Linked DNA regions of Homo sapiens: region 1 is linked to region 2. The links come from fine-mapping of genetic effects on gene expression. A gene starts in region 2. The other region holds a variant in brackets. All regions are shown on one strand. Distances are between the middles of the regions. Region 1 overlaps RCBTB1 (RCC1 and BTB domain containing protein 1). Region 2 holds the start of PHF11 (PHD finger protein 11).

The links. PIP is the estimated chance that this variant, and not a neighbour inherited with it, causes the effect. A credible set is the group of variants that fine-mapping cannot tell apart.
Region 1: its variant is the best candidate, but not a certain one, in a credible set for the expression of PHF11 in subcutaneous fat (FUSION, PIP 0.85).

Annotation. Positions count from the first base shown.
Region 1 is chr13:49,572,170-49,577,550 of GRCh38, reverse strand. The region is part of intron 2 of RCBTB1 (RCC1 and BTB domain containing protein 1); the gene reads left to right. Among named protein-coding and RNA genes, the nearest start is that of RCBTB1, 11 kb to the left of the region's middle. The variant G/TG (reference allele first, on the strand shown) is at 2,117.
Region 2 is chr13:49,493,323-49,498,703 of GRCh38, reverse strand. PHF11 (PHD finger protein 11) reads right to left here and starts at 2,751. Exons shown (of 10, transcript NM_001040443.3): 1 at 2,609-2,751. The coding sequence starts at 2,702. All of the region lies in intron 12 of SETDB2-PHF11 (SETDB2-PHF11 readthrough), which reads right to left. It overlaps SETDB2 (SET domain bifurcated histone lysine methyltransferase 2), which reads right to left. Exons shown (of 14, transcript NM_001160308.3): 14 at 3,701-5,381. RefSeq lists enhancers at 2,170-2,219, 2,710-2,949, 3,260-3,945 and a silencer at 2,410-2,689.

The DNA.
Region 1 (5,381 bases), 79 kb before region 2:
TAAAAGCCAGTACATAACAGCAATTTAAACTAGCCCAAACAAATACATTCTGGTTAGTTGAGGTCTGTGTGGAAGCCATGTGCTTACAGATCAACCCTAAATTTCCACTGTTGTTTAATATTGAGAACATTATTTCATCAAAACCAGTTTTCCTGTACCATTTCTCTCCATTTCCTGTTGTTTTTAAAATCTCCATAAGCATGTTGAAATATATTTTTGCTAGATCAGTAAAATAAACTAAAATAAAATTAGCCTTTCCTTAATATTTGTTCCTTGGGGAAAGTAAAATAAATGTGCTCTTAGGGGAATTAAAAGATTAGTTGCTACATTACTCCTTCAGCCTTCCAGTTCTAAATGTAGATTTCTAAAATTGGAAGGCCTGTGTTTGTCCTGACTGAATTTGCTTTCAGAGTATAAAGTAAAATAACCTTTTCTTCCTCATGCCACAAGTTCTCTGAGGGACAGTGCCAATAGCTAGGATAAGCCATCCCAGGGAATGGGATATTGATCTGTAGGACTAATGGACGTAGGATAAGTGCAGTGGGGATACAGGATGTATTTTCAAGTGCCAGAGAAAATACGAAGAGCCAAGTGGGTTGGCATATTATCTTTAAGGACGTTACACTCTTTCTACCTCTGCTTGCATTTTTGCGTTCCTCTTTTCTTTCCTTGCACCCTTGTTTTATCTTTATACAGTTAAAAAAAAAAGTCATTGATTCACCTAATAATAACTCATAAAGAGTGGTAATTCAGGCTGCAACACATTAATATTGTTTTTCAGAAAGTATTTCCTAAATAAAACATGGAAGGCTTGCAAAAAAATTACTATCTTAGTGAGGTACTTCAGAAGTAACTATTTAAAGATGACTGACATTCTAATTACAGCTCATCATTTTTATAATTATCAAGATGACAAGCCCTGGAAGGACCTGTCATCTTAGCAATTTGTTTGGTCTGGTTTAAATTGCTGTATGCACTGGAAAATTCTAAGAAGGCTATATTTCTTTTATAAATGCTCCGTTGAGAATTTCCCTAATCTGAACTTATATTCTCAAGACATGATTAAAACAGTATGATTTTACTTTTCCAAACACATTTTTTAGGACTGAAACCTTTCTATATTTAATTTTAGAAATGTATCTTTGAGTTTATTAATGCAGTCTTGATAAAAGCCCACAGGATGATTATTTGATTTTAAAAAATTGGGGTAAAAGGTATATAGTGTAAAATTTACCATTTTAATGATTTTTAATTACACATTTTAGTCACATTATGTACATTCACATTGTTGTACAATCATCACCACCATCAATCTCTAGACTACTTAAAAAAAATCATCTCAACTTTTTTTTTTTTTTTTTTTTTTTTTTTTTGCGACGCCTGTCGCCCAGGCTGGAGTGCAGTGGTGCAATCTTGGCTCACTGCAAGCTCCGCCTCCCAGGTTCATGCCATTCTCCTTCCTCAGCCTCCCGAGTAGCTGGGACTACTGGTGCCCGCCACCACACCCGGCTAATTTTTTCGTATTTTTAGTAGAGACGAGGTTTCACCGTGTTAGCCAGGATGGTCTCGATCTCTGACCTTGTGATCTGCTCGTCTTGGCCTCCCAGAATGCTGGGATTACAGGCGTGAGCCACCACACCTGACCCAATTTCAACTTTTATTTTAGATTCAGGGAGTACATATGCAGGTTTGTTACATGGGTATAGCGTGTGATGCTGAGCTTTGGAGTACGAATAATTCCGTCACCCAGGTAGTGAGCATAGTATCCAATAGGTAGTTTTTTAGCCTGTGTACCCCTCCCTCCCTGCCCCTGTAGTAGTCTCCAGTGTCTGTTGTTCCTGTCTTTATATCCACGTGTACCCTATATTTAGTTCCCATTTCTAAGTGACAACATGTGGTATTTGGTTTTCTGTTCCTGTGTTAATTCACATAGGATAATGGCCTGTAGCTGCATCCATGATTTTGTTCTTCTTTATGGCCATGTAGTATTCCATGGTGTATATATACCACATTTTCTTTTTCCAATCTACTGTCAACGGGCACCTAGGTTGATTCCATGTCTTTGCTATTGTGAATAGTGCTGTGATGAACATACAGGTGCATTTTTTTTTTTTTT[G/TG]GTAGAACAATTTATTTTCCTTTGGATGTATACCCAGTCTTGGGATTCCTGGGTTGAATGGTAGTTCTGTTTTAAGTTCTTTGAGAAATCTCCAAACTGCTTTCCACAGTGGCTGAACTAATTTACATTCCCACTAACAGTGTATAGTGTTGCCTCTGCTGTACAGCCTCGCCAATATCTTTTGTTTTTGACTTTTTGATAATGGCCATTCTGACTGGTGTGAGATAGTATCTCATTGTGGTTTTGATTTGGATTTCTCTGATGATTAGTGATGTTGAATATTTTTTCACATATTTGTTGCCTAGAACTTTTTCATCACCCCAAAGTGAAACTCTGTACCCATTAAACAGTAACTCCCCATTCCTACCTCCCCCCAGCTCCTGGCACCCACAATTCTACTTTGTCTCCATGAATTTGACTGTTCTAGGTACCTCATGTAAGTGGAATCATGCAATATTTGTCTAACTTATTAGCATAATGTCTTCAGGGTTCATCCCTGTTGTTGTATGTATCAGAATTTCCTCCTAAGGGTGAATAATATTCTATCGTATGTGTAGACCACATTTTGTTTATCCATTCATCTGTTCATGGATATTTGGATTATTTTCACATTTTGGCTATTGTGAATAATGCTGCTTTGACCGTTGGTATACAACTATCTGTTCAAGTCTCTGCTTTCAGTTCTTTGGGGTATATGCTAGAAATGGAGTTTATCTAGATAATATAATTCTAATGTTTTTTTTTTTTTTTAAGGAATCACCATCTGGTTTTCTATAGCAGCTGTATCATCTTACATTTCTACCATCTACATTTAATTTTATATTAATAATTCATTTTTCCAGATTTTGCCTGAAACATTCTGCCACTCTACGTTATGAATCTAAAGCAAGAATACATCTTAAAACTTCTAACAGCCTAGGGGTAAAACATAATTCAAATAATTGAACTTTTATTTTCATTGGAAATATTTGTTCATTTTATTGGTCACAAAGTGTTTGTTATAGAAATTTGGGACTGGCCGAGCATGGTGGCTCACGCCTCTAATCCCAGCACTTTGGGAGGCTGAGGTGGGCAGATCACCTGAGGTCAGGAGTTTGAGACCAGCCTGGCTAACATGGTGAAACCCCGTCTCTACTAAAAATACAAAAATTAGCCAGGCGTGGTGGTGCACACCTGTAATCTCAGCCACTCAGAAGGCTGAGGCACAAGAATTGCTTGAACTGGGGAGGTGGAGGTTGCAGTGAGCCAAGATGGTGCCAGTGTACTCCAGACTGGGCAACAGAGTGAGACTCTGTCCACCCCCCACCCCCAAAAAAAGAAATTTGGGACTATATTTTAAAAATACAAAGAAGGCCAGGTGTGGTGGCTCACGCCTGTAATCCCAGCACTTTGGGAGGCCCAGGTGGGTGGATCACTTGAGGTCAGGAGTTTGAGACCAGCCTGGCCAACATGGTGAAACCCCTTCTCTACTAAAAATACAAAGATTAGCTAGGCATGGTGGTGTACACCTGTAATTCCAGCTACTCGGGAGGCTGAGGCACAAGAATTGCTTGAACTGATGAGGGGGAGTTTGCAGTGAGCCAAGATGGTGCCAGTGTACTCCAGACTGGACAACAGAGCGAGGCTCTGTCTCAAAAAAAAAAAAAAGAGAGAAATTTGGGACTATATTTTAAAAATACAAAGAAGGCCAGGTGCGGTGGCTCACGCCTGTAATCCCAGCACTTTGGGAGGCCGAGGTAGGTGGATCACTTGAGGTCGGGAGTTTGAGACCAGCCTGGCAAACATGGTGAAACCCCGTCTCTACTAAAAAAATGCAAAATTAGCCGGGCGTGATGGTGGGCGCCTGTAATCCCAGCTACTTGGGAGGCTGAGGCAGGAGAATTGCTTGAACCCAGGAGGCGGAGATTGCAGTGAGCCAAGATCGTGCCACAGCACTCCAGCTTGGGCAACAAGAGCGAAACTCCATCTCAAAAAAAAAAAAAAAAAGATGAGGAATTGTATCTAATTTCTAAAGGGGAAGTGAGGTAGGAGACTGATAGGACTTGTTTTCTGGCCACAACCCTGCTGACGAAAACAAACAAACGAACAAACTAAAGAAGTGGGGATGGCAGGCCAAAAAATAGAATAAAAATACAAAGAAAGAAAATGATGCCACCTGTAATCTCTCCATGGAGATATATTTTGGTGTATACATTTCTGTATATATTATACTTTAGAAAAATTGTAATCATACAGGACATATTGTTTTATAACATAGCTAAGCTAACTAAGTCTTACAGGGTACATTTATTTTTGTGGTTTTGTTTTGAATTTGGGATGTGCACATAGTTTAGCTGTATGACGTGTTTGGGTGGCAGCTTCTGTTGGGATGCTTCCTTGGGGGGTGCTTATAATTTGGACAAACCATAGCACCATGGGAAGGAAGAGAGTTGGGCTACCTTGCTCAGGGTACTTACCAAGGTACTTGACTGTCAGGGAAGGCCTGGGCTGAATAGGCCAGTTGAAGGTTCTTTCCATTAGCAGTGCCTCCTTCATACAGGAATAGAACACAAATAGAATCACTTCATATCTTCCTATTTGAAGCATCTAAATTATTGTGCAACCCTCTGGAGTGATTATTATTATTACTATTATTTTGAGACAGAGTCTCACTCTTATCACTCAGGACAGTTGCATAGTCTTGGCTCACTGCAACCTCTGCCTCCTGGGCTCAGATGATCCTCCCACCTCAGCCTCCTGAGTAGCTGAGATTACCAGCGTGCGCCACCACACCCGGGGTAATTTTTGTATTTTTAGTGGAGACAGGGTTTTGCCATGTTGGCCAGTCTGGTCTCAAACTCCTGACCTCAACTGATCTGCCTGCCTCAGCCTCCCAAAAGTGCTGGGATTACAGGTGTCAGCCACCGTGCCCAGCCTGGAATGATTATTTAAATGAAATTTAGTTGAACTACATTTATATTCCTTTGAAATGAAATCCATAGTTAGAATAAGTCTGTTAATACTTTTCTTTCATGTTTAGGCAAATTTAATAGATGTCATGATATCAGAGCTGTCCTAAATAATGTTGCTGTTCCTTGCAATGGATCCTGCATTTTTTTTTTTTTTTCTGAGACAGAGTCTCGCTCTGTCGCCTAGGCTGGAGTGCAGTGGCATGATCTCGGCTCACTGCAACCTCCACCTCCCAGGTTCAAACGATCCTTCCACCTCAGCCTCCCAAGTAGCTGGGACACCAGGTGCATGCCACTACTCCTGGATAATTTCTGTA
Region 2 (5,381 bases):
GATCCCACTGCATTCTTTATATTACTGTCAGAATGATCTATCTGAAATGTATTACGTTACTGTCAGAATGATCTACCTGAAATGCACTATGCTACTGTCAGAATGATCTACCTGAAATGTACTAGGTTACTGTCAGAATGATCTACCTGAAATGTACCAGGTCACTGTCAGAATGATCTAACGGAAATGTACTAGGTTACAGTCAGAATGATCTATCTGAAATGTACTAGGTTACTGTCAGAATGATCTACTGGAAATGTACTAGGTTACTGTCAGAATGATCTACCGGAAATGTACTAGGTTACTGTCAGAATGATTTACCAGAAATGTGCTAGGTTACTGTCAGAATGATCTACCGGAAATGTACTATGTTACTGTCAGAATGATCTACCTGAAATGGACATCTGCTCATATTTCCCCATCACCTACAGAAGTCAAGCTCCGTAGTGTTATATACAAGTACATTCATTCCTTCAACAAATATTTAATGAGGACTTACTATTATTTAATATTTAATGAGTACCTACTATGTCCTACTACTACTACTAGGCCAACCAGTCTAGGCACTAAGGATAGAAGAGAGTAAGACGAATTTACATGCCAGTGGCCAGTGGTAGAGACAGGCATTAAACAAGTTTTGTTTTGTTTTCCAGGTAGTGATAAGTACTATAGAGAAAGAATAGAGCAGAAGGAGGTAGAGAGTGACAGGAGCAGGGGCAAGGGGTGCTCTTTTAGACAGGATGGGCAGGCAAGGTTGAGGGAAGATGTATATGAGCAGACACCTGAATATGATGGGGAACTGAAAATGGGATAATGTGGCAATGAGTTTTCCTTGCAGAGAATAGCAAATGGAAAGATCCTGAGGCAGGGACAGCTTTGGTGGCTTAGAGGACCTACAAGGTAGCAGGGTAGCAGAGTCATTAAGATGGGCAGGAGTCAAATCAGATAAGGACATGGGGTAAACTGCAGGCCAGGCTCATAGATTGTTCTGAGAGTCATGGGAGACTATTGGTGGGTTTTGAGTAGGAGAATCACATTTGCTTTTTGTTTTTCAAAAAGCATTTTGGCCGCTCTGCAGGCCTGCCTGTATTAAAGGCTAGAATAGAAGCCAGGAAAGCAATAGTCCAGACAGAAGATCATGATGGCGTAGGCTTGGGTGGCAGTAATGGAAGTGGTGAGAAGCAGTCAGGCTCCAGATACAGTCAGGCTGAACACAGAACTGGCTGGCCCGACTGATGCATTAGAAGGGGTGTCCGGAGGAAAGAGAGGCCCTGAGGAGCCACTAAGGTTTTTGCAAGGAGCACCTGGGCGAATGGAATGGGCTGGTGGTTGAGCAGGTTTGGAGTACCTGAATACAGTGGAGGAAACAAGAATTCTCTTTGGGACATACTCAGTTTGAGATCATTTCAGAAATGGAAGAAGTTGGTTATACCAGTCTGGAGTTTGAGGAAGAGGTCAGGATGGAAGCGCATCTCCCGTGACTTACCTTACAGTCCATATGTATACCAATGAATGAAATATCCAACTGATTGGCTTGTGGTTGCCACGTATGATGTTTACGTGTGACGTTTTGTGGTTTGGTGCCTTTGTGTCATCCTCTCTGCTGGGAACACCCCTTCAACTTTTCCACCTTTGGCTGAGTCTTGCCCTTTAAAGGTAAGCCCATGAAACATGGAGAAACCCTCTCTACTAAAAATACAAAATTAGCTGGGCGTGGTGGCACATGCCTGTAATCCCATCCACTCGGGAGGCTGAGGCAGGAGAATCGCTTGAACCCGGGAGGCAGAGGTTGCAGTGGGCCGAGATAGCGCCTTTGCACTCCAGCCTGGGCAACAAGAGTGAAACTCCTCTCAAAAAAAAAAAAAAAAAAAAAGGGTAAGCCCAGCCATCCTCTCCTCAAAAAGCTTTCCCTGAAGACTGGGAGTCAGGAGTCTCTCATCTGTACCTCTGTGGTTCTGACCTCCTCATTAAAGTTGCCTAGTAGAGTCTCTAGGGCAGGGTCTGCCTAACTCATCTTTGTATGCTCAGGACCTTGCCCTGAGCCTGGCACACCGTTTGGAGCTATACACACACGCAAGGGCAGGAACCCATCAGAAGACCCACCCACTCAAGTAGAGGGCCGGGGAGGACTGGAACGACTGGAGAAGGGGAGACGGGTTCCAGTCACGTCCTCCGTGAACGTGAGACCCAGCTCTTCCCTCAGGGCCGCCCCCTGCCTCACCGCATCAGGGCGCCCCTCCACTGTCCTGGTTTACCGGTGAGCGGAGGGGCGCTAGGAGAGTTGACATCGGTTGTGGTGGAAGCACTGGGCTGTCACCCGCGGGGGAGGTAAACCGAAGCGTGCCCACCACTCGCGCGAAACCATGGGCAGTCAGAGCCACCTGTGGAACTGGCCTGGGCCGCGCCCTGTCCTCTGGCCCCCTCCCCCACCAACAGGCACGCGAGTGGTGAGCCAAGTTCGTCCAGCGCCGCCCCGGCGTCTAGGGCCCCGGCCCGGAGTAGGGGCAGGTCGGGCCCCCATGCGGCCACGACCGGAAGGCAGGCCCCTTGACCGGGCCCGTCGCTGCCCAGCCCCGCCCGCCCGCCCGCCCGCCCCCGCGGTACACACCGGTGGGAAGGAGGAGCGCCTCCTGCGCGGGCCGGGCCTCCGGGCTGCTGGCGCCGAGCACCCTCTCGGGCCGGGGCGGCGACGCCTGGGCCATGACTGTGCTGCAGCTGCGGGTGGCGGCCGGATAGCGAGATCCCGGAAGTGCCCCAGCTGCACTAGGTTTCGTTTTCTTAAATCTGGGCTGTCGCTTTGAGTCACTAGCCGGCCCGGGGAAAGTTGGGTGTGCAGAGAGGGGTTGTCACACACACTGCTCCAGATTCCAGTCTAGTCTTAATTTGAATAGCTTAAAAAACCCAAACGCCGGGAGCAGTGGCTCACGCCTGTAATCCCAGCACTTTGGGAGGCCGAGGAGGGCGGATCACGAGGTCAGGAGTTCAACACCAGCCTAACCAACATGGTGAAACCCCGTCTCTACTAAAAATACAAAAATTAGCTGGGCATGGTGGCGGGTGCCTGTAATCCCAGCTACTCCAGACACTGAGGCATGAGAATCGCTTGAATCGGGAGGCGGGGCTTGCAGTGAGCCGAGATCGCGCCACTACACTCCAGCCTGGGCTACAGAGCGGGACTCCGTCTCAAAACAAACAAACAAACAAACACACACAAAAAACAAACAAACAAAAAAACCCCAAACGCCAGGCTTCCCTACTCCACCCCCCACAACACAGCGGGAGAAACAATCACTCTCCTGAGGGTTCCTCCTAAAAACTATCATACTGGCCGGGTGGGCGCGGTGGCTCACGCCTGTAGTTCCAGGACTTTGGGAGGCCGAGGTGGGCGAATCACGAGGTCAGGAGTTCGAGACCAGCCTGGTCAACATGGTGAAACCCCGTCTCTACTAAAAATACAAAAATTAGCCGGGCTTGGTGGCGGGCGCCTGTAATCCCAGCTACTCGGGAGTCTGAGGCAGGAGAATCGCTTGAACCCGGGAGGCGGGGGTTGCAGTGAGCCAAGATCGCGCCACTGCACTCCTGCCTAGGCGACAGAGCCAGACTCCCTCTCAAAAAAAAAAAAAAAAAAAAAAAAATTATCATACCGAGTTTGGCTTAAATAAGCATATCTTAAAAGGACGCAGAATTAGCCGATCCTAAATCCAGTTGCCAGTAGCAAGCCTTTATTTAGCACCCATAGGGTACAGAGCACCATACAAGATGAGGTTTTCAGTGAATCTAACATAAATGCATATAATTATAGTTAAAAAATAAGTTGTTCTGGAAAAAAGACATATAATAGTTGGTGGTTTGCTGAGGAATTAAAGGAAAACTGGAGGTCTTCCACTTTCAGCAGGTTGTAAAGAGGAAGACTGCCAACTAGGGATAGCAGAAGAGAGAACATTAAAAAGGACAATTTGTATAGTCTTGACAACTATGAAATGAATTGCAGAAGAGTGTGGGGTCTGCAAAACAGGGAAGTGAGCAGACAGACCCTAGCAGCCAATTTTTAAATTTTTTTTTGCCCTCCATGCAGGAGGATGAAAGAGTATTTCTTGCCAGGCCAAAATGAAAGGCCCTTTATAAAGAGACTGACATTAGGGTGTTCCCCAGCAAGATAGCTCAGGTAGGTCATAGTAAAACAAAGAGCCCTTTACCACACTCTCAGCTTATAGTAAGCTTTTTGGTGTTCCACACTTAAATATGAGTAGACTACCAAGACCATTAACTCTGAGGAAAGCCTATAATGTGAACGACCAAAACAAACATACAGGGGAAACAAAGAAACAAACCCTGGAGGACACAGATTATGCCGAAAGAATACAGAGATGCATGCCTGTATGTGTATGTATACGTGTGTGCATATACATACATAAACACACAAACATCTTCAAGGAGATAAAATACTGCAACCATGAGCCAAAATAGGATGCTATTAAAAAAAAAGAATATTCGGAGAAGGGGAGCTCTTAGAAATTAAAAATATGAGACAATATGAGACTAGAAAAATAAAATGCAACAGATGAACTGGAAGATTAAATTGAGAAATGCTCCTAGGAAAAGGTCCTAGCAAGAAGACAGAGCTGAAAGTTAAGAGAAAAGATAGGAAAATTAGAGATCAAATTCTGGAGGTCTAACATCTGGAAAACAGGAATTCCAGAAACAGTGAAGAGATGGGAAATCATTAGTTTCAGACGGAATGATCCCACCAGGCACCTAGTACAAAGGATGAAAATGGACTCTTAACAGGGACAGAACATTGAGACAAAGATAAACCTATAAGCTTCAAGAGAGATAAAAATGGATTATATATGCAAAAGAGAAGGAACAGAATGGCATTCAATTTCCAGTAGTCACCCTGGAAGCCAGAAGACAGATTTTCAGACTCCACAGCAACAGCACTGAAAGCTAGCAGATGTCTTCAAAACTGGGCATGGAGACCACTAAAGAATCCTATACCTTGCCAACCAAAACAGCAATCAGGTATAAGGGTAAAATAAAGACATTGTCAAACACACAGAGATTCAAAACATTTACTTTTCATTTTTCCTTTCCAAAAGCTATTGGAAGAGCTTTACCAATATGTGGAAGAGTAAACCAAGGAAAAGGAAAATAATGGCATCTAACTGGAAACAGATCCCACATAAGAGACAAAGTGAATCTCTGGGGTACTGATGGAAGATGATGGCTATGAACCAGTCCAGACTAAAGCAAATCAAGATTTTAGGAGAAATTTCTCCAAGAAGATAAAACTGACAGAATACCTCATATTTCTAAAGGTCAAATGGACTCCACAGGCAGAGCTCAAAGAAATACTGGCTGATCCATAATATTCCCTTTTG